Linked DNA regions of Homo sapiens. The protein of the gene in region 1 interacts with the protein of each later gene in a pairwise test. Each region holds a gene or a part of one and is shown in the gene's direction. Other genes may lie near its edges.

Evidence for each region.
Region 2: the proteins of PROX1 (region 1) and RORA interact in a two-hybrid assay, tested with the Homo sapiens proteins (one study listed by BioGRID).
Region 3: the proteins of PROX1 (region 1) and HNF1A interact in binary tests that used the Homo sapiens proteins (3 or more experiments, as listed by UniProt).
Region 4: the proteins of PROX1 (region 1) and NR5A2 interact in binary tests that used the Homo sapiens proteins (3 or more experiments, as listed by UniProt).

The regions. Positions count from the first base shown.
Region 1 is NC_000001.11:214,032,934-214,039,972, forward strand, and holds part of PROX1 (prospero homeobox protein 1), read left to right. Parts: intron 1-2,712; coding exon of another isoform or gene 2,713-2,715; coding exon 2,716-2,901; 3' UTR 2,902-7,039. UniProt on the Homo sapiens protein: Transcription factor involved in developmental processes such as cell fate determination, gene transcriptional regulation and progenitor cell regulation in a number of organs.
Region 2 is NC_000015.10:60,487,778-60,491,335, reverse strand, and holds the end of RORA (nuclear receptor ROR-alpha), read left to right. Parts: 3' UTR 1-3,052; downstream 3,053-3,558. UniProt on the Homo sapiens protein: Nuclear receptor that binds DNA as a monomer to ROR response elements (RORE) containing a single core motif half-site 5'-AGGTCA-3' preceded by a short A-T-rich sequence.
Region 3 is NC_000012.12:120,995,525-121,002,563, forward strand, and holds the end of HNF1A (hepatocyte nuclear factor 1-alpha), read left to right. Parts: intron 1-737; coding exon 738-889; intron 890-1,016; coding exon 1,017-1,218; intron 1,219-1,949; coding exon 1,950-2,141; intron 2,142-3,743; coding exon 3,744-3,865; coding exon of another isoform or gene 3,866-3,958; coding exon 3,959-4,103; intron 4,104-4,961; exon of another isoform or gene 4,962-5,540; coding exon 5,541-5,668; 3' UTR 5,669-6,988; downstream 6,989-7,039. UniProt on the Homo sapiens protein: Transcriptional activator that regulates the tissue specific expression of multiple genes, especially in pancreatic islet cells and in liver. Binds to the inverted palindrome 5'-GTTAATNATTAAC-3'.
Region 4 is NC_000001.11:200,170,686-200,177,724, forward strand, and holds the end of NR5A2 (nuclear receptor subfamily 5 group A member 2), read left to right. Parts: intron 1-3,277; coding exon 3,278-3,525; 3' UTR 3,526-6,730; downstream 6,731-7,039. UniProt on the Homo sapiens protein: Orphan nuclear receptor that binds DNA as a monomer to the 5'-TCAAGGCCA-3' sequence and controls expression of target genes: regulates key biological processes, such as early embryonic development, cholesterol and bile acid synthesis pathways, as well as liver and pancreas morphogenesis.

The DNA.
Region 1 (7,039 bases):
TGATGAAGAGGAGACTGCATACAACCCCCAAAGAAGTTGCCTTGTTCTCATGCAAATCCTACAACTACACTTCCCTCCCTCCCCTGCTGCTGATGTTCTAGATGTACCTCTTCTCTCTCCTCTGACAGTCTTGAACAATGCCTGCCCTTCCCCTGTCCCTGGTTCCCCAGACCTCCTGTGCAGTTCTTGGTGTGGGCAGGGCTTCCGGCCTTCTCTGGCTTCTCTGGGGCAGCTGCCCACACCTTCACCCCTCAAAGCTCTCTGCCATGTCATGCTGCATCCCTGAGTGCTCAAGGAACATAGAATTTCACTGAGGCTGTATTGCCGTTGGCTGATGAAACCACCCTTCTTGAAACGTTTATTTTAATAAATGCCTATAATTGGCCAGGTGCAGTGGCTCACACCTGTAATCTCAGCACTTTGGGAGGCCAAGACGGGCAGATCACCTGAGGTTGGGAGTTGGAGACCAGCCTGGCCAACATGGTGAAACCCCATCTCTACTGAAAATACAAAAGTTAGCCAGGCGTGATGGCACTTGCCTGTAATCTCAGCTACTCAGGAGGCTAAGGCAGGAGAGTCTCATGAACCCAGGAGGCAGAGGTTGCAGTGAGCCAGGATCATGCCACTGCACTCCAGCCTGGGTGACAGAGCAAAACTCCATCTCAAATAAATAAATTAATAAATGCCTATGATTATGTTTCTGTAGCATTTGGCTAACAGCTCCCAATCCAAGGAGTGAGAGTGGGCAGTTGCTCCGCTTCACTGTTCTCCAGCCACATTCCCTCCCTCAGTGATGCTCATTTGATAGAATGTGGAGGATTATCTTTGGGGGTGGAGGTGACTGTGCTAGAAAAGATTGCTTCACGAATTTTTATTTGTATAATGTGAGTGGGAGGGCTAAGCTCTCCTCCAACAAATACTCATGTATACAAGACATTTGGGAGGAAATCACCCAAAGGCCTGTAGAAAATCCACATGAATTCTCAGCAGAGAATGGCCCTTGAGGTGTATGGGTTTGCACATTCATGGCGGACAAGGCGGCACTTTGAAGGATTTTCCAGGCAACACTGGGAATTATGTCCTAAGAAATGGGCCAGTGTGAAAGTCTTTAGGAGGGTCTGATAAAAATGTAAGCTTAAGACTGATTGGCCCCAAAAGGAGTCCCTTTCATTTTTTTCTGCAGAGTTATTACATTTCTTTATAAACAACAATTAACTTGCCATAGGGAACAATGAACTTCTTTGTCCAATTTTAAACGTGAAAAACAGTGATGTCGGGTGATGATTCTGGTTTTCTTTACCAGTTACTACTATTGTTAAAAAGTACATTGCACCCAAGGTGGGAAGAAAGAGATGAAACATGTTCAACATTACACTACTTCCTTTTTACTTTGGTACGTGGCATGTCTGAACTTAGATGAAATGTCTTTCATCTCTTGTATATGCGTAGATAAATATGGCTACATGTACACCTATGATACGTTTATGTCCTCATACGTCTGCACTTAATGTAAAAATGAAACTTTACTGGTGTATAAGTACCCCACTAAAAGAAATCTACTAAGTGTCAATGTGTACTTGGAAAATCATGAGTTCATGGATTATTCTGTGATTCCATTATGTTGGTGTGGGGATAGATAGACCATGCTGTACTATAAGTAACTTCCAAAGAACACTAAATAAGTACATCAGTAGCTACTGCTTTCCTTAGTCAAGAGATCAGATTAATAAGTAATTAAGAGAACACACACACACACACAACACACATACATATTAATTGCTGTGGAAGAAAAGCCTTAAGAAATTGGGGTTCTAAAATGAATATTTGGGGAATGTTTATTTTGGATGATAAGGACCTTGAGGAATTTCCTTACCCTCTCTGAGCCTCAGTTTTCTATTGTGTAACTGGGATAATAACACCCCTTAGAGAGATTGGGAGAACTGAATGACATAATTCACATTCAGTACATAAAACATAGCCTGGCAAGTAGTAAATACTCGAAAAAAGTTAGTTTGTATTATTATTATTATCAGCTGAATAAATCACTCTCTTATGGAGCAATTCTAATCTCAAGGTTAAGTAGTTTCTGATGTAATATTTTAGGATCAGTTTTGTGACTTCATGTTAATATTATTATTTTACTCCTTTATGTATATAGAATACTTTATATTGCAGATTAATATACAACTTAGCATCTGAGTCAACAATCCTCTGAGACAAACAGATAACTGAGATTTTAGAAGATTTTCTTCATTTAAAGCTTGGGTTTAATTTATAAAGAAGCCCAACTATTTGTTATTCTATTTTGAGAACGTATTTTGTTTTCATCATGGCAATCAAAAAGAAATAGGATTCAAATTCTGAAAAAATAATTGGAGACTTTCTTCTGGATAGCACTTATTTAATAAAGTGAGGAATCCCAAAAGTCACATCCCATATTCCTATCCTAATATCCACAATGAAATCCCAGTTTTTCAATAGGTCTGCGTTGGATCTTTCATACACTCTTCTTAAAACAAAGCTGTCAACCCCACATCACAATGCTTCTATATATAATGACTTTACATTAAAAGAATAGAAGCCAGCTATTTTTAGAAAATGCAGGTGCCATGTAAGCCCCTTTCTGCAAGAATGATCTTAGCTCAGTTTCCTTGGAATAACTGTAGACTTGAAACTGAAAACTTTATTAATGCCATTGTCTCCTTGTATCAGCAGGTTCCAGAGAGATTCCTGGAAGTTGCTCAGATCACATTACGGGAGTTTTTCAATGCCATTATCGCAGGCAAAGATGTTGATCCTTCCTGGAAGAAGGCCATATACAAGGTCATCTGCAAGCTGGATAGTGAAGTCCCTGAGATTTTCAAATCCCCGAACTGCCTACAAGAGCTGCTTCATGAGTAGAAATTTCAACAACTCTTTTTGAATGTATGAAGAGTAGCAGTCCCCTTTGGATGTCCAAGTTATATGTGTCTAGATTTTGATTTCATATATATGTGTATGGGAGGCATGGATATGTTATGAAATCAGCTGGTAATTCCTCCTCATCACGTTTCTCTCATTTTCTTTTGTTTTCCATTGCAAGGGGATGGTTGTTTTCTTTCTGCCTTTAGTTTGCTTTTGCCCAAGGCCCTTAACATTTGGACACTTAAAATAGGGTTAATTTTCAGGGAAAAAGAATGTTGGCGTGTGTAAAGTCTCTATTAGCAATGAAGGGAATTTGTTAACGATGCATCCACTTGATTGATGACTTATTGCAAATGGCGGTTGGCTGAGGAAAACCCATGACACAGCACAACTCTACAGACAGTGATGTGTCTCTTGTTTCTACTGCTAAGAAGGTCTGAAAATTTAATGAAACCACTTCATACATTTAAGTATTTTGTTTGGTTTGAACTCAATCAGTAGCTTTTCCTTACATGTTTAAAAATAATTCCAATGACAGATGAGCAGCTCACTTTTCCAAAGTACCCCAAAAGGCCAAATTAAAAAAGAAAAATAATCACTCTCAAGCCTTGTCTAAGAAAAGAGGCAAACTCTGAAAGTCGTACCAGTTTCTTCTGGAGGCAAAGCAATTTTGCACAAAACCAGCTCTCTCAAGATGAGACTAGAAATTCATACCTGGTCTTGTAGCCACCTCTCTAAACTTGAAAATAGGTTCTTCTTCATAAGTGAGCTTACATCATTCTTCATAAAGAAAAATCCTATAACTTGTTATCATTTTTGCTTCAGATACTAAAAGGCACTAAGTTTCCAATTTACGCTGCTCAACTTTGTTTATATGCTTAAAAGGATTCTGTTTACTTAACAATTTTTTCCCCTAAAATACTATTTTCTGAATACTTCCTTCCAGTAAGGAATAAAGGAAAGCCCAACTTGGCCATAAAATTCTTGCCTACACTAGAAGTTTGTTGACAGCCATTAGCTGACTTGATCGTCATCTCCTAAGAGGAACACATATATTTTCACAAGCAATTCCACACTATCCTGATGGGTATGCAAAGTGGTGACAGTCTAACTCAGTGTTTCTTCATTTTAGGTATAACATTTTAAAGCAATTGATAATGCCTCTTCCAATTCAGAAGCTAGTATTGACCAAAATGTGAGAAGAGTGTATAGCATAGGAAAATTTGGGGTTAACCCAAAAGACACAATTCCAGCACACATAAGAAAGCTAGCTGCTATTTTATGCTTTCTTCCATGGTTCTCCTCTTTTTTCCCTTTTATTTTTCCCTGTTTTTCAATGATGTACAGTGTTCCCTACTTGCATTGAAAAAACTCGTATGGCATTCACACTTTTTTTCTTAGGTGGGTTTTTGTGTCCAGATGCAGTAAGAATTCATTGTTCATCCTAAAACTGTTTTCCAGACCCTTCCTTCCCCTTAGGTAATTTGATATACACCTCCTAAAATGACACAGTAACAAATCTGGTATTTAGAACATATAGAACATAAATGCCATTTTTTAATTCAACTTTAATAAGAATTACATTTGACTTTGGAGAATACAGGTCTTGACCCATGTGACTGACTAGCTGACCCGATCGCTGTAATTTAACGTCATTTATAAATTCTGCTGATGGACAGGAATGTATGAACTCAATTATTGTCAGCACAAAGCCTTAAAACCTGCTGACTTTAAATTAAATGGTGCAGTCCTATGATGCCCTGCACCATCCAGGGGACTAACAGGGCCTCGCAGTGTAGACAGAGGGTGCAGCCACACGGGCGGGGGCACCAGCCACCTCACTCTGCACCCGCGGCCTCACACATCTCCCAGCTCACACTCTACTAATGCACAGAGTCATTAGATCCAATTTGTTATTTTTCTCACTTGCTTTAAAAAAAAGCAGTTTGGATAATCATGACATTGGAATAAAGTGGGAAGGAAAAATTCCATCAGCACAAAATAGGGAAGTAATCCCAACTTGTAGTCACAGTTTTCTGACTGGCTTTGTTTTAAAAGAGGATGGCAGTCCTTGTTCGTGTCAGTGTGCCACTGGGTTTTTGCTGTTCCGTGTAATTCATATCAACTTTGTGTTGCCATTTGCAAGGTAAAAGGCAAAGCTGTAGTGTATTCACCTATGTAGACAGATTGCTAGATATCTTTTTGATCTGGGGCGAGTTCAATATTGATTCCAGACTTATTTGGATTTTTTTAGTATTATTTTCCCCTCCCTTTCTAATTTAAATAGACAAATTAAGCAAAAGTGTGTGTTCACAACCAAATGTTGATGCCCTTATCTACTGATAATATCCTCTCAATGTTCACTGAGGCATAGAAATTATTTCAGAGTAGAAATTGCAGCATGAGGATAAACTCACCTCTTTGTTCTGAAAATAGAACTTTATCACTATGCTTTCCGGTGGTTTTCCCTTTTACAATCGAAATCTTGTGCCTCCCAAGTGCATTGGAAAATGACAAAAGCCTGTCTCTCCAAATTCCTATTTAACAGTTTGATTTTTTTTTTTTAATCACCATCTTTCAAATCTTAGCTCAACTCTCACCAAGTGAAAATTGGCTACTTGGGAGAAAGTTAACTTTCTATGGTGGGATGGTGAAGGATGAGGGACAGTTTACATAGGAAAAGAAAAAAAAAAGTCTAAAGTCCATGTTGAAAAACCACACTACCACTTATTTTCTGCTAACCCTAAATTATTTTTGCGTATACGCTTGAGGTTATAGTCTGTGCCTAGACCTAAAATGCACCAGCGGGGGGGATTTTAAAAAATCCTTCAAAATACCAGTTTTTTCCCAACAAGTACAATTGTTCTTGTGCCTTCTGTGGCTTTCGATTTCATCTTTTTGACTTTATTTCCAATTACTACAGCTGCAATAAACACTAGATTTTTTTTCTGGCTGTTTGACATAACGTTGATAGCTATGCATATTTTGTGTCTTTTTAAAACAAAGCGGGAGAATACGTTTTTGAAGAAGAGAATTTTTAGAACAGTTTGATACCGCAAATTATTTTTTCCTCAATTGTTTGAGCAGCATTCGAGTTTTGAAAATTCTTGTAGAAGCCAATTTTTTGTAACTGTGGTGCAAATCTTGTGTTTTCTTAGCCTAATGAAAAGTAGTATAGAAGCAATATTTCATACCATGTGCTATATATGTGTGCGCAGATGTGTGAACATAAAATCACATACACACATATACACACATGTAAAAATATACATATATATATATGCGTGTGAAGTGGAAAGCTTACCTTTTCCTATCTAGATTTAAGAACCTATTTTAGACATTTGTTATGTTTTGTGAAAAGAATGTTCTATTTGCAACAAAACATTTAATTCTTACTGTATCTCTGGCTGTTTAATGAGGACGTTTCACATTAAATGGTAAAACACATGGAAGATGTTAGAATGTAGTAATTATTTAAGTAAACGTTCACCCACATATTCCTGAAGTTTGCTTTGTGCCTCCGAGTATTATTTAATTAAAGAAGTGTTTTATGTTTGCAGAATCTTTGTCACTGTACTAGGGATGTGGGTGAATATCATTTAAAAAAATTTAAAACAACAAAAAAAAAGCAAAACAGAAACACTAAAGCAAGAGGGGAACTTTTATAAAGCAATGTAAATATTTAACCTCATGGCTGTCATTATGTAAGACATGAGATTTTAATAAATAACTACATTCTCACGACATCTGTTGAATTTACTAGGAACACTACAGTGACTGTATAGACAGTTGAAAGCATTCTTGAAAATCCTGCTCTCTCCTTTTAAAAGTTAACAATCTCTTTTATCAGATGTCAAGGGCAAGGGTAATGCAGTTTCTGTAAATTTATGAAATTTCTTTTTCTATGTACATGAAGACATTTAGTAAGTAACACCCCCCCTTCCCATGCGCACATGTGCGCATACACACACACACACACACACACACACACACAAACACACACACTGTCATAAAGCTAATGATTTGGGGACTTTAAAAAATAGGATGTCCTCCAGGAACAATCATAAATTTATGAAAGAAAGAGTAGTTTACAGACTCCCCTGAAAGAAGCAGTGTATATGTGAAGACAGTGCAA
Region 2 (3,558 bases), on another chromosome or scaffold:
TATTAGCTTTGACATGTTGCACATGCCATTATGTTGTTCTCTAAGAACAACTAAATTCTCTCCAGTGTTCATGTGTGATTCCTTTTTCATCATTATTACTTTAATGTGGATGAATACTATTTCTAGGAACTTGATTATCACTGAACAGATTGCATATGTAAATGCAGATAATTCTTGAGCAATATAGTGAAAATGATTTCACAAAAAAAATCCATATGTACTGTATACATCTTCCTGAATCCAAAATTCTCCTGTTATCCACACAGTTTGAAATCTCATATTAAACAGTGGTAAATTTTTAAACATTAGGACATTAGCTGGCTGCTTCTATAAATGTACCTGTATTGTCTGCCTGCTCCTTTTGTGGAGATGTGTTTTTGTATTGGATGTTTGGGCCAATGGGAGGCTTCAAGCTACAACATATTTTCCCACTTTAAATAATATTTAACATATGACAAACCCCAGACAAGGCTTTTAATATGTATAAAGAACTGCAGTGTTAGGTGGTTTATTTGCAAACTGTTTTCAGTGTTGTCCATTTTTATGGCACCTTTAACAATATTCTTGTTTCCAAAGTACAAAAAAAATAGGTTAAATAATCTAGCCATAACTGAATGTCAAGCAATAAAACAAATGACTTTTGTGCATAGACTTAAAAAATACAAATTTTAGACATCTGCATGTAAATGCAATCTCTTGTTTACTGCTTTCTTCAACTTGAGCAATCGATTCCTTATTTACTATTAACTTAAGAACTTGTAACGGCCTGTAAACATTTTCTCTCTTACTCTTCTTTCAAATTTACCTGTCCCTGCTTTTGAGTCATAATATTTAATGTTGTTCTGCACATCTCTATACAGTTAACTTTTTGGCTTTCATTCTGTATAGATAAGAAAATGTTATATTATAAACAGCCTACTCAGTGCAAATATTTATCTGTTTATCAAATCCACAATATGCTGTATAATACCGGTTTTACTATATAATCTATTTTAGACATAGCTGTTTAGAACTAGAGTGTGCTATTTTTGTGTTTTTCTGATGTGTGGTGCTAGACAAGTTACTTTTGTGAACAACAAAAATTATCCCTTTTATTCCTAGACAATACCACCTTTGGGTCTTGTTAATTTCACTGAGTATAACTATATATTTGTATATATATACATATATATATATATCTACCTATGCCCAACTGGCAGCTGTATCAGAGTGCTGGATTTGGGACATGCTTTTCTCTTTAAATACATAATATCATTATATAAATTATTCTAGAGTGTATTTAATTAGGATAAAATTACTTCCTTAGTATGGATATTTGACATCTATAGGGTGAATTTGTTTATAAATATGGCTATATGGAAACTTATTAGCATTTACTTTATGTTTGCTACTTGGCTTTACAGCATATCTCCTAAGCTGAAAAATAATTTGCCAGGCCTTCAAGATCCTAAAGAAACTTGTTTAATGGAGTAATATACTTTTTTTTCTTATTAAGGAATTGTATTACTGGCACCTAACACAGTTGTATTCTTAGCTCCTATTATAGATAATGGGCATTTACATAAAATATCCTAGATGGCTTGATGGCAGAATAAACCTTTCCCCTCCTACCTGAGTCATGAGAAGGATGGAGACGTCCTCTGCCATAACATGGGCCATAAAGCAAATTCGACATGGGATGTTCTGTTTCAGTATGACCTCAACCAGTTCCATGAACTGAGTGAAGGACCTTCATTTTCAAAGTTATTTAATAAGTAGCTTAATTAAGCCTTTCTACCCATTCTCCCAAGATCTACTGGCATTATTGAAAAGCAAAGTTTATCAAATATCTAACTAAGGATGTAGTTAACCTTATTAAATATTGATTAGAATTGTTCTGTAATATTACTGAATTTGTAAGATCTTTAGCAAAGATTTTTGAGCAATTTATAAATGTAGAGCAAATGTTTCTGTTTACTGCACTTTTTGTAACTGAAGGTGATAAATTCTCAAGCCATGATTATTGGCTTCCATGCACTGCAATATTTATCCACAATTCTAGACATTTTCCATTTTTGTGGAAGAGTTGCTGTTACCTTAATTATAAATGCAATTGTGTGGTTAATGAGAGCTAATGCTAGTAGTTAACCTTTTAAAGTGGATTGGCTACAGTTGAGGGAGAAATCTCTTTTAATATAAATCACATCATTCCTTAACTGCCTCTCTTGGAAAGAGATTGAAACCTTTTTTTTAAAGCACGATTTAGCATCCTAAGCTTCCTGAGGGTAGAGATTGTATCTTTTTGCGTCTGCACAATGGCTAGCACATGTCAGCATTTGACAATTGTTAAATGATAACAAGTGTGCCCCAATTAAAACGTTTTTCCTGGGTTGTTTTGTTAAATTTACAAAGTAAGCCAAGCCTTACGGTTAACATTCTCCTCTACAACCAAGTATTAAAGCCACATTTAAAAAGACCACATGAAATGCTGATTCTAATTGTGTGTAGGTCTTGAGGATTAAGCACACAAATTTCACAAACTTCTGTTTGAGTAAACAAACTCAGCCTTCTGTAAATATACATGCAAGTTTGGAAACAGTAATACTGTACCTATAAATATATGCTGTCTGTTTTGTGTACAGTATGTAAAAACTCCTTTTCTGCCACACTAAAAATGCAAGCCATTTATGGGAATCCTAAAACTAGTATTGAACTAAAACTTTGCTAATGATCTTTATTAGAGGATCGTCCAACTTTTCACTTACCTTGGGTTTTCTTTTCAATTCACTCTTACACTAGTCTGCTTATTTCCAGCTGTTTATTTTATTGAGTCCTGAATTTAAAAAAAAAATATTTTGATTCATTTTGTAAATACAAGCTGTACAAAAAAGAGAGATTTAATGTTGTCTTTTAAATACTCCAATTTTCATTCTAATATGAATGTTGTTATATTGTACTTAGAAACTGTACCTTTAATATTACATTACCTTTATTAAAAGTGCATTGAACACATCAATTTTAGATGTGCTTTATGTACTGTTATCCTATAATAAAACTTCAGCTTCTAATGGAACACTTGCCTTGTTTTTCTTCTTTTTTCTTGGTTATTGAATTGGACTGTACATAGTTTCCTAGCTTACATCCTGTCTCTAGTGAAGGGTCTAGGAGAGAGTAGGTAAGTGTGGTCCAGACTAGCAGCACGGCATCTCCTGCGACTTTGTTGGAACTGGATAATCCCAGCACTACCCAGACCTACTAAATCAATCTGCCTTTTTATAGGATCCCAGGTGATCCGTATGCACATTAAAGTGTGAGAAGCACCGGTGTATACCACAGCACCTTTTTTTTTTTTTTTTGAGACGGAGTTTCGCTCTTGTTGCCCAGGCTGGAGCGCAATGGCGGGAGATCTCGGCTCACCGCAACCTCCCCCTCCCAGGTTCAAGCAATTCTCCTGCCTCAGCCTCCTGAGTAGCTGGGATTACAGACATGCACCACCACGCCCGGCTAATTTTGTATTTTTAGTAGAGACGGGGTTTCTCCATGTTGAGGCTGGTCTTGAACTCCTGACCTCAGGTGATC
Region 3 (7,039 bases), on another chromosome or scaffold:
CACTCCACTCTATACCATTCCACTCCACTCTATTCACATACTCCACCATTCCAGTCTACTCCATTCACTCCACTCCAACCCACTCACTCCACTCCATACCATTCCACTCCACTGTGTTCACACAACTCCATCCATTCCACTCTAGCCACTCCATTCATTCCACTCCACGCCACACTATTCCTCACCATTCCATCCACTCCACCCTATACCATTCCACTCCACTCTATTCCTCCCCACCCGTCCTCTCCACCCTTTACCACTCCACTCGACTGTACCCATTCCACTTGATCCCACTCATTCCACTCAATTCCATCTACTCTACTCCACACCATCCACTCCACTTCATATCATTCCACTCAACTCAACCTAAGTTGATTTGGGTTAATTCAATTCAATTCATTCATTTCAGATTGTATCAATTCAATTCATTTCAATTCAACTAAATTCAGTTAAATTCAGTTCAGTTGTCTTCTACTGAGCACCTACTGCATGTCAGGTATAGCACTAGGCAGTGGGAGGAATGGAGCTAATAAATGCAGTCCCAGCCTTCAAGGAACTGGGAGCAGCTGACCCAGGGCTTGGCAAAAGGTAGAAACAAAGGCAGATTTGCTGGCTGCATAAAGGCAGACAGGCAGCTGGCCTAAGCAAACCAATGGAGTTTGAAGTGCTGAGGGCTGTGGAGGCAGGGGAGGGCAGGGAAGTGGGGTGCTGAGGCAGGACACTGCTTCCCTCTCCAGGTGTGCGCTATGGACAGCCTGCGACCAGTGAGACTGCAGAAGTACCCTCAAGCAGCGGCGGTCCCTTAGTGACAGTGTCTACACCCCTCCACCAAGTGTCCCCCACGGGCCTGGAGCCCAGCCACAGCCTGCTGAGTACAGAAGCCAAGCTGGTGAGTGTCCTTGCTTGTAAGGAAAACCCAACCTCATCTTTCCTTGGCAGGGAGATTCTGGAGCAGTCCCTAGGGAGGCCCTGTGGGGACCCCGGCCCCCCGGACACAGCTTGGCTTCCCCTCGTAGGTCTCAGCAGCTGGGGGCCCCCTCCCCCCTGTCAGCACCCTGACAGCACTGCACAGCTTGGAGCAGACATCCCCAGGCCTCAACCAGCAGCCCCAGAACCTCATCATGGCCTCACTTCCTGGGGTCATGACCATCGGGCCTGGTGAGCCTGCCTCCCTGGGTCCTACGTTCACCAACACAGGTGCCTCCACCCTGGTCATCGGTAAGCTGGTGGGGATGGGTGGGCACCTGGGTGGGAGGCTCATGGGGCAACCGCAGAATCCAGGAGCTGGAAGAGCCACTGGGACTCATTCATTCATTCATACAACATGTATTTATCCAGTGCCTACTCTGGACCAGTCACTGTGCTACATCAGTGATACCTGGGTGAACCAAACAGACCAAAATCTCAGCAACTCAAGCAGGGAGGCAGGCACTAAGCATAATACATCAATTCTGTGGTACCTCAGAAGGTGAAGGGTCTATGGGCAAATTACAGCAGGGTAAGGGGGACTGATGTTTTCTAAGTTTTTGTTTTATGAAGAAAAATTAAGCCCAGAAAGCCCTTATTTGCAGGTACAATTATGCAGAAGCCCAGTACATAAGATAGATAAGGAGCTGCTAGGAGAGGGGAGCAGAGAACTGACCCCATGGCCTTTGCACTGCTGTGGAACCCCAGGGCTCCAGGGAACCGCAGTTTGACAACTTTTGAACAAGTCACCGCCTGCCTCTCCCACTAGCCTAGACAAAGAGCTAAAGGCTCAGAGAGGGGGAATGACTTGCCAGAGCCACTTAAATTAGTGGCAGGTCCCAGTGGAGGGCTGTTTCCTGACCACCCTGCCCCCTCCTCCAAACCACGGGCTCTGGGAAGGAGAGGTGGTGCCCTTGGGAGGTCTTGGGCAGGGGTGGGATATAACTGGGGGGCCCAGCTGATTCCCTCCCCTTCCACTCCAGGCCTGGCCTCCACGCAGGCACAGAGTGTGCCGGTCATCAACAGCATGGGCAGCAGCCTGACCACCCTGCAGCCCGTCCAGTTCTCCCAGCCGCTGCACCCCTCCTACCAGCAGCCGCTCATGCCACCTGTGCAGAGCCATGTGACCCAGAGCCCCTTCATGGCCACCATGGCTCAGCTGCAGAGCCCCCACGGTGAGCGCCCTGTGCCCCACACAGCAGGAGATGATGATAGAGGTTGGCTGTCAATGGATGCAGGGGAAAGGGGTGCCTGGCAGGCATTGCAGTCTGCATGTGTCTCTGGGACAAGTGTGTTTCCGTGATTGAGGGTGTCTGCAGGCCAGTGTGTTCCCATGTGAATGCACGTATCTGTGTGTGTGCACGACTGCTTGTGTGAGCAGATCCCTAGTGCGTGTCTGGGTGTGTATCGGTTGTGCATGCATTTGTGTGCATGCCTGTGTTTCTCTGAAACTCTTAGGGCCATATGAATTTCTAAAATCTATTCAGATTTTAGAAAGGTAATCTGGGGCCAGGCGTGGTGGCTCATGCCTGTAATCCCAGCACTTTGGAAGGCCGAGGTGGGCAGATCACTTGAGGTCAGGAGTTCAAGACCAGCCTGGCCAACACGGTGAAACCCCGTCTCTACTAAAAGTACAAAAATTAGCCAGGCGTGGAGGCACGTGCCTGTAGTCCCAGCTACTTGGGAGGCTGAGGCAGAATCGCTTGAACCTGGGAGGCGGAGGTTGCAGTGAGCTGAGATTGTGCCACTGCACTGCACTCCAGCCTGGGCAACAGAGTGAGTACTCTGCCAAAAAAAAAAAAAAGAAAAAGAAAAGTAATTTGGTGGATATGCCAGCTATCACATAACACTCCCAGCAGGGTTTGAGACAGCCCCCTGTGATCAAAGCACTGCTATTTCTGCAGCCAAAGATAGGATTTCCACAAGGCAGTTTAAACACTCATAACCTCATACCAGGTTCAGGCTGGGTTTCGCCACCAAATGAGCTCTAGTGCCAATCTTAAGGAAATCTTTTGGTTTCAGACCTTTTTGGAATTTGGGACTGGGTTAAGAGATTTGGGGCCTGTGTATGTCTGTGTGTACATGGTTGAGAGTGTATGCGTGTGTGTGTGTTACATTTTTATCTGAGTCACTGTGAGAATATGTGGTTTATGTGCGTTTTCCTAGTGTCTGTGTGTCTCTTGTAGGGTCTATGTGTCTCCTGAGGGGTGGGTGGAGGTGCTGTAGGCAAAACATGGGGTTATATTTGGAAAGGTGGCCTGGAGATGGAAGTACTGCTGTCCTCTGCCTTGCTCTTTGACAGGGGCCACCTGAACTTACTACACAGCACCTGAGTTTAGTACAGTAGCACCTGTGCTTAGTACATAGCACCTGTGTTTAGTATAGTAGCACCTGTGCTTAGTACATAGCGCCTGCATTTAGTACAGTAGCACCTGCGCTTAGTACGTAGCACCCGTGCTTAGTACAGTAGCCCTGCACCTGCACCTCCCGTTCCCTTTCATACCTGCTGTCTCCAGGTGACAAGAGGAGCTGGAGTTGGTTTCTGGCCTCCTCCAGGCTCCCCTGCATCAAGCGCAGCTGAGCAGTTCCCTGTAATGGGGAGAGGGTCTGTCCCTTTATCTGGAGCCTCCAGTTTTGAAAATCAGCCCTGGATCTCCAACTGCTGCCCAGTCTGGCTGTTCAGCAGGCCCCATGCCCCCCTTTCCCCAGTCTTGAGGCCTGGGACTAGGGCTGTCAGGCACGTCTGCCACGTCTGCCCCTCTCTCCCCTGCGGCCAGCCCTCTACAGCCACAAGCCCGAGGTGGCCCAGTACACCCACACGGGCCTGCTCCCGCAGACTATGCTCATCACCGACACCACCAACCTGAGCGCCCTGGCCAGCCTCACGCCCACCAAGCAGGTAAGGTCCAGGCCTGCTGGCCCTCCCTTGGCCTGTGACAGAGCCCCTCACCCCCACATCCCCCGGGCTCAGGAGGCTGCTCTGCTCCCCCAGGTCTTCACCTCAGACACTGAGGCCTCCAGTGAGTCCGGGCTTCACACGCCGGCATCTCAGGCCACCACCCTCCACGTCCCCAGCCAGGACCCTGCCAGCATCCAGCACCTGCAGCCGGCCCACCGGCTCAGCGCCAGCCCCACAGGTGAGAGGCCCTGGCTCCACCCCCTCCCTTACTGTCCCTGCCCCCTTCCATGTTGGTCCCACCCCTTCTGTTGCTGTCCGTCACTGTGGGGCTGTGCATGCAGCAGGCCTAGGGCTGCTGTGAGGAAGCACTGGCAGGCGTGGAGGGGTGGGGTGGGCTTCCATGAAGCCCAAGAGGCACAGGCGACCCCAGGAAGATGGGGCCCACCTTACAAGAACATCTCAGGGACTGGACTGAGGAAAATGATGAAGTAATTGTTAGAGGCAGTGGAGAGTAACGATAAGGACCAGGTCTGTGAGCCAGAAGCGACTCTTGCATGTGTTTGGTTTGGCTTGGCTCAGGGTTGAACATTCTTTGAATTTGTTGCCAACATTTCAAAATCAGGAATTTTCACATAGAAATCCAGATTTCTGGCATCTTTTGGAAAATTGGAAAAATTCATATTCCCATATAACAGTGCACCAGGCCTCACTGCATCCACTCACATCGGCTCCAATGACCCCTGGCGGTGGGGCGGTCACCTGAGTTTGTAATCTATGATGCCATTGTCAGGAGTGGGCACTTTGGAGTCAGGTGGGTGGGCTTTGCAGCCTGCCTTTTTGCAAGCTGCCCCCTTTCTATAAGGTTCCTGGACCCGGCCCTGGCAGCTGTCATGACAGCCACTGAGGCCATTCTGTGTCCTGGCATTCACCCCATGAGGCGTGTCCATGACCACCCCCATTTTACAGATGAGAAAGTGGACACTCAAGGAGGGGAGGGACTTGCCTCATCTCCCACAGCTACCAGATGGCAGGGCCAGGACTCGAACCCAGGTCCCACCTCAAAGCCCATTCTCTTAACCATTGCCATCAGTCAGGGTTCTCCAGGAACACAGAACCAACAGATTTATTTGAAGGACTTGGCCCGTGTCTGCGGGGGGCTGGCAGGCCTGAAATCTGTTGCTGGCAGCTCTGGGGAGTGAATTCTGCAGCCTTGAGGCAGAATTCCTTCTCTGGGAAACCGGTTTTTGCTCTTACGGCCTTCCACTGATGTAGGAGGCCCACCCATATTTTCAGGGTAATCTCCTTCACTCAAAGCCAACTGATTGTGGCATTAACCACATCTACAAAGCACCTGCATTCACAGCAGCGCCTAGATTAGTGTTTGACTCAGCCTAGCCAAGCCAACACGTACAACTACCTACCTCGGCATCTCACCGGGGCTTCTCCAGTGTTCACACTAAGATGTACTCAGGCCACTCCATGGGCGGCCGTGGACCCTGGCTGGGAGGCTCCCTTTGAAGAACCGAGGGTAGAGGTGTGACTTTGGGGTTCCTGTTATCTGCTGTGATCCAGGAGGTGTGGCCCTGCCTCCCCATCCTGAGTACCCCTAGGGACAGGCAGGTGGGGTGGGTGTGGGTGCCTGGTGGGTGGCTAGCAGCCTTGTTTGCCTCTGCAGTGTCCTCCAGCAGCCTGGTGCTGTACCAGAGCTCAGACTCCAGCAATGGCCAGAGCCACCTGCTGCCATCCAACCACAGCGTCATCGAGACCTTCATCTCCACCCAGATGGCCTCTTCCTCCCAGTAACCACGGCACCTGGGCCCTGGGGCCTGTACTGCCTGCTTGGGGGGTGATGAGGGCAGCAGCCAGCCCTGCCTGGAGGACCTGAGCCTGCCGAGCAACCGTGGCCCTTCCTGGACAGCTGTGCCTCGCTCCCCACTCTGCTCTGATGCATCAGAAAGGGAGGGCTCTGAGGCGCCCCAACCCGTGGAGGCTGCTCGGGGTGCACAGGAGGGGGTCGTGGAGAGCTAGGAGCAAAGCCTGTTCATGGCAGATGTAGGAGGGACTGTCGCTGCTTCGTGGGATACAGTCTTCTTACTTGGAACTGAAGGGGGCGGCCTATGACTTGGGCACCCCCAGCCTGGGCCTATGGAGAGCCCTGGGACCGCTACACCACTCTGGCAGCCACACTTCTCAGGACACAGGCCTGTGTAGCTGTGACCTGCTGAGCTCTGAGAGGCCCTGGATCAGCGTGGCCTTGTTCTGTCACCAATGTACCCACCGGGCCACTCCTTCCTGCCCCAACTCCTTCCAGCTAGTGACCCACATGCCATTTGTACTGACCCCATCACCTACTCACACAGGCATTTCCTGGGTGGCTACTCTGTGCCAGAGCCTGGGGCTCTAACGCCTGAGCCCAGGGAGGCCGAAGCTAACAGGGAAGGCAGGCAGGGCTCTCCTGGCTTCCCATCCCCAGCGATTCCCTCTCCCAGGCCCCATGACCTCCAGCTTTCCTGTATTTGTTCCCAAGAGCATCATGCCTCTGAGGCCAGCCTGGCCTCCTGCCTCTACTGGGAAGGCTACTTCGGGGCTGGGAAGTCGTCCTTACTCCTGTGGGAGCCTCGCAACCCGTGCCAAGTCCAGGTCCTGGTGGGGCAGCTCCTCTGTCTCGAGCGCCCTGCAGACCCTGCCCTTGTTTGGGGCAGGAGTAGCTGAGCTCACAAGGCAGCAAGGCCCGAGCAGCTGAGCAGGGCCGGGGAACTGGCCAAGCTGAGGTGCCCAGGAGAAGAAAGAGGTGACCCCAGGGCACAGGAGCTACCTGTGTGGACAGGACTAACACTCAGAAGCCTGGGGGCCTGGCTGGCTGAGGGCAGTTCGCAGCCACCCTGAGGAGTCTGAGGTCCTGAGCACTGCCAGGAGGGACAAAGGAGCCTGTGAACCCAGGACAAGCATGGTCCCACATCCCTGGGCCTGCTGCTGAGAACCTGGCCTTCAGTGTACCGCGTCTACCCTGGGATTCAGGAAAAGGCCTGGGGTGACCCGGCACCCCCTGCAGCTTGTAGCCAGCCGGGGCGAGTGGCACGTTTATTTAACTTTTAGTAAAGTCAAGGAGAAATGCGGTGGAAACTTCTTGCTTGTCCACAAATCATTCAGATGGGGTTTGGGCAGGTAGCGGGA
Region 4 (7,039 bases), about 14 Mb from region 1:
GTTTCCCTTAACACAAAACTGACCAGTGAAAATCCTCATTTGCAAAACATGTAAATTAGAACTTGATTATTCAGATCACAAAAGGATTCATCACAGGACTTTTTGAATAGAAAAGACTATTACATGTAAAGTACAGTATTTTATTTCAGGGAGAGATCCATTACATATATGCCAAATTTTTGAAAATCAGTTTCTAGTTAGAAAAAGGAAGGAAATTGGCTTGTGAAATAATTTAACAGGTCAAATTCACAATTGTATCAATCTTGGACAAATGCACCAATAATGTGAAGCAAGGAGTTACCGGTGTATTCCCTGGGGATGGCTGAACTAAAGCATATCCCTTATCCCCAGGAGCTTACGGTCTGCATAGGGAAACAGACAGTTAAATAGACAGAAGCCAGCATCAAGGCAGGCAGCAGAGCAATGATCCTGGAATGGCATGGTCAGTAAATGAGAGGAATTCACTCAGAACTTCTTCAGGATCATTGCCATGTGTATAGATGTAGAAACAAAATAGACATTCGGCAAGTAAGAATCTTTGGGACAATTAGCAGCATATGTTTTATTATTTCATGATAACATTCATCAAAATAGCTTAATGGGATAATTAACTCAGGCATGTGGATTCAATTCTGATCAGCTTTAGCAAAAAATAGTATATTTAGCCAAAATATGAGACACCTATATATTTTCCTGCCAGAAGGAAAATTGCACATATTTCCCAAGTTTTGGGGGAAAAGGGTGTCAGTTTGGACCAGTATTCATAGAAATTAACCATCGAGGCTGGACGCAGTAGCTCACGCCTGTAATCCCAGCACTTTGGGAGGCCAAGGTGGGTGGATCACTGGAAGTCAGGAATTTGAGACCACCCTAGTCAACATGGTGAAACCCCATCTCTACTAAAAATATAAAAATTAGCTGGGTGTGGTGACACAAGTCTGTAACCCCAGCTACTCAGGTGGCTGAGGCAGGAGGATTGCTTGAACTCAGGAGGTGGAGGTTGCAGTGAGCCGAGATCGCACCACTGCACTACAGCCTGGCAACAGAGCAAGACTCTGTCTCAAAATAAAAAAAAGAAAGAAGTTAACCATTGAATGCTGAGCTGAAGACTCTAAATTATCATTCTATAATAGTAAGTGGATAAACCAAAACTTATGATCTAGCCTTTGTTTTATGTTTGTTGGTAGTTTTCTTTCTTTTTGTTTTTCCTTAACAGAGCAGCATAGTTTATCACAGAATGTTAAAACTGGTTCTCAAAAAAATACAATTATCAAAAAAGGAAAGTTTCAAACAACTTTCTAAAAAGGGTATTCTTCATTTTTCTTACATTTTACATTCATTCTATGCAAATTTCTACATCCTCTCTATTAATCTCTGACTGTTACTAGCTTTGCTTGCTGGTGAGAGTATTTTTCACTGTAGCGTAAAATAATACTGCATTTCAAATTTTTAATAGTCATGTTTTAATCACTATAATGCAAAACAAATGTAGATTTTTCTATCATGTACCAAGGTAGGACATATTGAAGGTATTTCTGATTGTTTATATTTTGCAATTTTGAACCAAGTATGACTCTGGATACATAGCCATACTTATAAATATTTTTAAGTAACTTAAAATCATTTTTAAAATATATTAAATAAGACAGGTGGAATATGCTTTACTAACTGTAAAGTGCCGCATGGGTAAAATGTCCAGAGCACACCAATGTGGTTGCCAATTTAAATGCCACCGGAAGACTCAGAGCTCCTTATTGTGTAGTATTTATGTTTGTACAACTCATCAATGAATAATCAACTATGTTTGAGTCTGCCATCTCACTTTGAAAGAGATATGGTACCAACTCACTACATAACTATTTCAGTACTAATTCCTCACTGTTTTTAATTTGGGTCAGAGACTTGGGGATGGAAAGGGGAAGCATGTTTAATGCAAAGCTATGGCCCAAATGTAAACACTGAAATCGTCCTGAACACACTTCAACAGCGAATGTATGACAGCCCAGTGTAAAGCCATTTAGAAATAACAAGATGGACATGTACACATATGTAGGTTAAGTTCAACAGTATATAATGCCCAAAACAGTATATAGTGGGTATGAATTACTTGAACCGAGTTTAGTATCTTTATCCTTTTAGTCATAGTACTGTGTGGTTTTCTCCATATTCTCTTTCTTATTTATTTTTGTCCAATTAGAAAATAAAGCAGGGCAGGGTGGCTGCATCTGTTTACTTTCTGAGCATGGGTGTATGTAAACACACACACGTATCTGTCTATTTTTTCCAGAGGCTTCTATGTACACATCATATAAAAGTCATACTGTTAACATAAATCAACCCCAGAAGAGAAATTCCAGCATACCGTTTTCCCTTGCCTATTGTCTGTGTGTGTGTTTGTATGTCAGTCTGTCTTTTTTTATTCTGGCTTTCTCTCTTATTCAGTATTTATAAGGACCTTTAGGGCAGATGTCTAAAAACAACTGCATAGTCATCAGGAGTTAGGCGGAATGAAATGCCTTTGCTCATCTTCTCTACATGAGTGACCAGAAGAAAAAAAAGAAACACAGAGTATCAGACTTTAGAAACTACATGCAGGTTAAAGGGCACTGACCATCCTGGCTTGTGTTCTGCCTAAAGGACAAGGCTCTCATTTGATAAAGATCATTAGTCACCAAGATATATATTTTAGAGAGTTCCCAGTAGCGAATATTCTGTTGGCAGTCACTGGAGTGTACCAGATGGTTCATTAGCATAGGCTAGACAAGTCAAAGACTTTCAGAATCATTTAGAAAATGTCAAACAGAAACAAGAATCCTGTCACTTTTTATTAGAATTAACTACATCATACCCTGGACACAGATTTCACCTTGGGTCAGAAAAATTAATACAGAATTATATGAATTGTGTAATATACTGGGTTAAGATAGGTCTTTCTCCAGGGACTCATTTGCTGGCAATATATTAAGATCCCTCTACTTTAGGAATCCTCAATCCTTTCCTTTTGTAAGATATGAAAAGAGTTGACCTTGCTCAAAATCCACTGGTGTCTAATTGATTTGAGGTATATGCAGAATTTCAACAAGACATTCTTCTAAAGCTCTTTTGTGATCCTTTTCCCAGGAAGTTTGGTGAGTGGGGTTTACTGAATATTCAGCAGCATGTAAAGTATGTTTATGTCAAAAGGAAAATACATCCATTAATTGAACACATTGCTTTAGTAAACAGGAATTGAAATGCTATTGAAATGTTGCTTTTTTTTTTTTTTTTTTTAATGCAGATGTCAAAAACCTTGAAAACTTCCAGCTGGTAGAAGGTGTCCAGGAACAAGTCAATGCCGCCCTGCTGGACTACACAATGTGTAACTACCCGCAGCAGACAGAGAAATTTGGACAGCTACTTCTTCGACTACCCGAAATCCGGGCCATCAGTATGCAGGCTGAAGAATACCTCTACTACAAGCACCTGAACGGGGATGTGCCCTATAATAACCTTCTCATTGAAATGTTGCATGCCAAAAGAGCATAAGTTACAACCCCTAGGAGCTCTGCTTTCAAAACAAAAAGAGATTGGGGGAGTGGGGAGGGGGAAGAAGAACAGGAAGAAAAAAAGTACTCTGAACTGCTCCAAGTAACGCTAATTAAAAACTTGCTTTAAAGATATTGAATTTAAAAAGGCATAATAATCAAATACTTAATAGCAAATAAATGATGTATCAGGGTATTTGTATTGCAAACTGTGAATCAAAGGCTTCACAGCCCCAGAGGATTCCATATAAAAGACATTGTAATGGAGTGGATTGAACTCACAGATGGATACCAACACGGTCAGAAGAAAAACGGACAGAACGGTTCTTGTATATTTAAACTGATCTCCACTATGAAGAAATTTAGGAACTAATCTTATTAATTAGGCTTATACAGCGGGGGATTTGAGCTTACAGGATTCCTCCATGGTAAAGCTGAACTGAAACAATTCTCAAGAATGCATCAGCTGTACCTACAATAGCCCCTCCCTCTTCCTTTGAAGGCCCCAGCACCTCTGCCCTGTGGTCACCGAATCTGTACTAAGGACCTGTGTTCAGCCACACCCAGTGGTAGCTCCACCAAATCATGAACAGCCTAATTTTGAGTGTCTGTGTCTTAGACCTGCAAACAGCTAATAGGAAATTCTATTAATATGTTAGCTTGCCATTTTAAATATGTTCTGAGGGTTGTTTTGTCTCGTGTTCATGATGTTAAGAAAATGCAGGCAGTATCCCTCATCTTATGTAAGTGTTAATTAATATTAAGGGAAATGACTACAAACTTTCAAAGCAAATGCTCCATAGCTAAAGCAACTTAGACCTTATTTCTGCTACTGTTGCTGAAATGTGGCTTTGGCATTGTTGGATTTCATAAAAAATTTCTGGCAGGAAGTCTTGTTAGTATACATCAGTCTTTTTCATCATCCAAGTTTGTAGTTCATTTAAAAATACAACATTAAACACATTTTGCTAGGATGTCAAATAGTCACAGTTCTAAGTAGTTGGAAACAAAATTGACGCATGTTAATCTATGCAAAGAGAAAGGAAAGGATGAGGTGATGTATTGACTCAAGGTTCATTCTTGCTGCAATTGAACATCCTCAAGAGTTGGGATGGAAATGGTGATTTTTACATGTGTCCTGGAAAGATATTAAAGTAATTCAAATCTTCCCCAAAGGGGAAAGGAAGAGAGTGATACTGACCTTTTTAAGTCATAGACCAAAGTCTGCTGTAGAACAAATATGGGAGGACAAAGAATCGCAAATTCTTCAAATGACTATTATCAGTATTATTAACATGCGATGCCACAGGTATGAAAGTCTTGCCTTATTTCACAATTTTAAAAGGTAGCTGTGCAGATGTGGATCAACATTTGTTTAAAATAAAGTATTAATACTTTAAAGTCAAATAAGATATAGTGTTTACATTCTTTAGGTCCTGAGGGGCAGGGGGATCTGTGATATAACAAAATAGCAAAAGCGGTAATTTCCTTAATGTTATTTTTCTGATTGGTAATTATTTTTAACAGTACTTAATTATTCTATGTCGTGAGACACTAAAATCAAAAACGGGAATCTCATTTAGACTTTAATTTTTTTGAGATTATCGGCGGCACAATCACTTTGTAGAAACTGTAAAAAATAAAAGTATCTCCTAGTCCCTTAATTTTTTCATAAATATTTCTGGCTTTTGAGTAGTGTATTTATATTGTATATCATACTTTCAACTGTAGACAATTATGATGCTAATTTATTGTTTCTTGGTTTCACCTTTGTATAAGATATAGCCAAGACTGAAGAAACCAAATATATGTGTTTACTGTAGCATGTCTTCAAATTAGTGGAACTTAGTTCAGGGACATAGAAGAGTCTTAATGAATTAAAATCATTCACTTGATTAAATGTCTGTAAATCTTCATCATTCCTACTGTAGTTTATTTAATATCTATTGTAAATTATGTGACTTGTAGCTTCCTCTGGTTTTCAAGTAAACTCAACAAGGTGGAGTCTTACCTGGTTTTCCTTTCCAAGCATTGTAAATTGTATACCAAAGATATTAGTTATTACTTCTGTGTGTACAAAGAGGATTATTTTATTATGTTTATTAATCACCTCTAATACTCATCCACATGAAGGGTACACATTAGGTAAGCTGGGCGTTGACTCATGCGCAGTCTCAGTCACCCGTGTTATCTTCGTGGCTCAAAGGACAATGCAAAATCGCCGATCAGAGCTCATACCCAAAGCATTACAGAGAACAGCAGCATCATTGCCCTCCCCAGCTGAAAAACAAGTTGGCTAGAAGATACATGGAGAGGAATGGTGTGGTCAACAGTTAATGAAACGGTTCTATCATGCATGTGTAATGTGGATGGAGACAATTATAAGATTTGACTATAACTATTTGGAGGGTCTTTAACATTGCCAAAAAAACAAATATGTTGATTTTTATTTTATTTTATTTTTTATTTTAAGAGGCGGGATCTTGATCTCACATGTTGCCCAGGCTGGCCTTGAACTCCTGGGCTCAAGCATTCCTCCTGCCTCAGCCTCCCCCATAGCTGGGACTAGGGGTGCATGCCAGCATACCTGGCTACGTTGACTCTTAAAATCTATGTTCTCTTATTTTAAAGATACAGTGCTCCCCACTGAAAATTAAACCTAAAAAATGTCACATATTGGTATGTTGTTAACCTGGTAGATTAAATCATGAGAATGATTAGAAAGACGGGCAACACAGCGGGTTACATCCACACTGCTGATCACACCAACGACAGGAGCTGATAAGCAAGAAAGCGTCACAGCCAGCGTCTGTTCACCCAAGGTTGACAAGTGAAGTTTCTCTAATGTTGATTGTTAGCCGATTTGTAACCTGGCATTTACTTAGCAACTGCCTTATCAATTACAGGATTTGCCGGTAAAAGCAGACTCAAATATAAAGGTTTTTGGCTTAACTTGGTTTATTATAGTTGCTCTATGTTTGTAAACAGACAATCTCTAATGTCTGATTATTTGTATCACAGATCTGCAGCTGCCTTGGACTTGAATCCATGCAATGTTTAGAGTGTGAAGTCAGTTACTTGTTGATGTTTTCTTACTGTATCAATGAAATACATATTGTCATGTCAGTTCTTGCCAGGAACTTCTCAACAAAATGGAATTTTTTTTTTCAGTATTTCAATAAATATTGATATGCCCAGCCTGATAATTTTTAAAAGTTTTTATGTTGTCCTCATTCTATCGGATACTAAAGCTTCTAAATAAGAGACTTGACTAGGAGTGAAATCAAAAGAATCCCACAGGAATAGATACTTTTCCCTTTAGATAACTTCTAGAGTGGTTGGCTGTCCTTCCATGGATACCTGAAGCATTAAATTCAATCTGAGCATCATCTCTACATGTGAAACAAAGTATTTTATATCATTTACTGTTATAATCAATAAGCAGAAAAATCTTAATAGCATCTCACTTTTTTGTAGAGCTTATGTTGTCCTGATAACTTTCCCAAGTGCTTTCT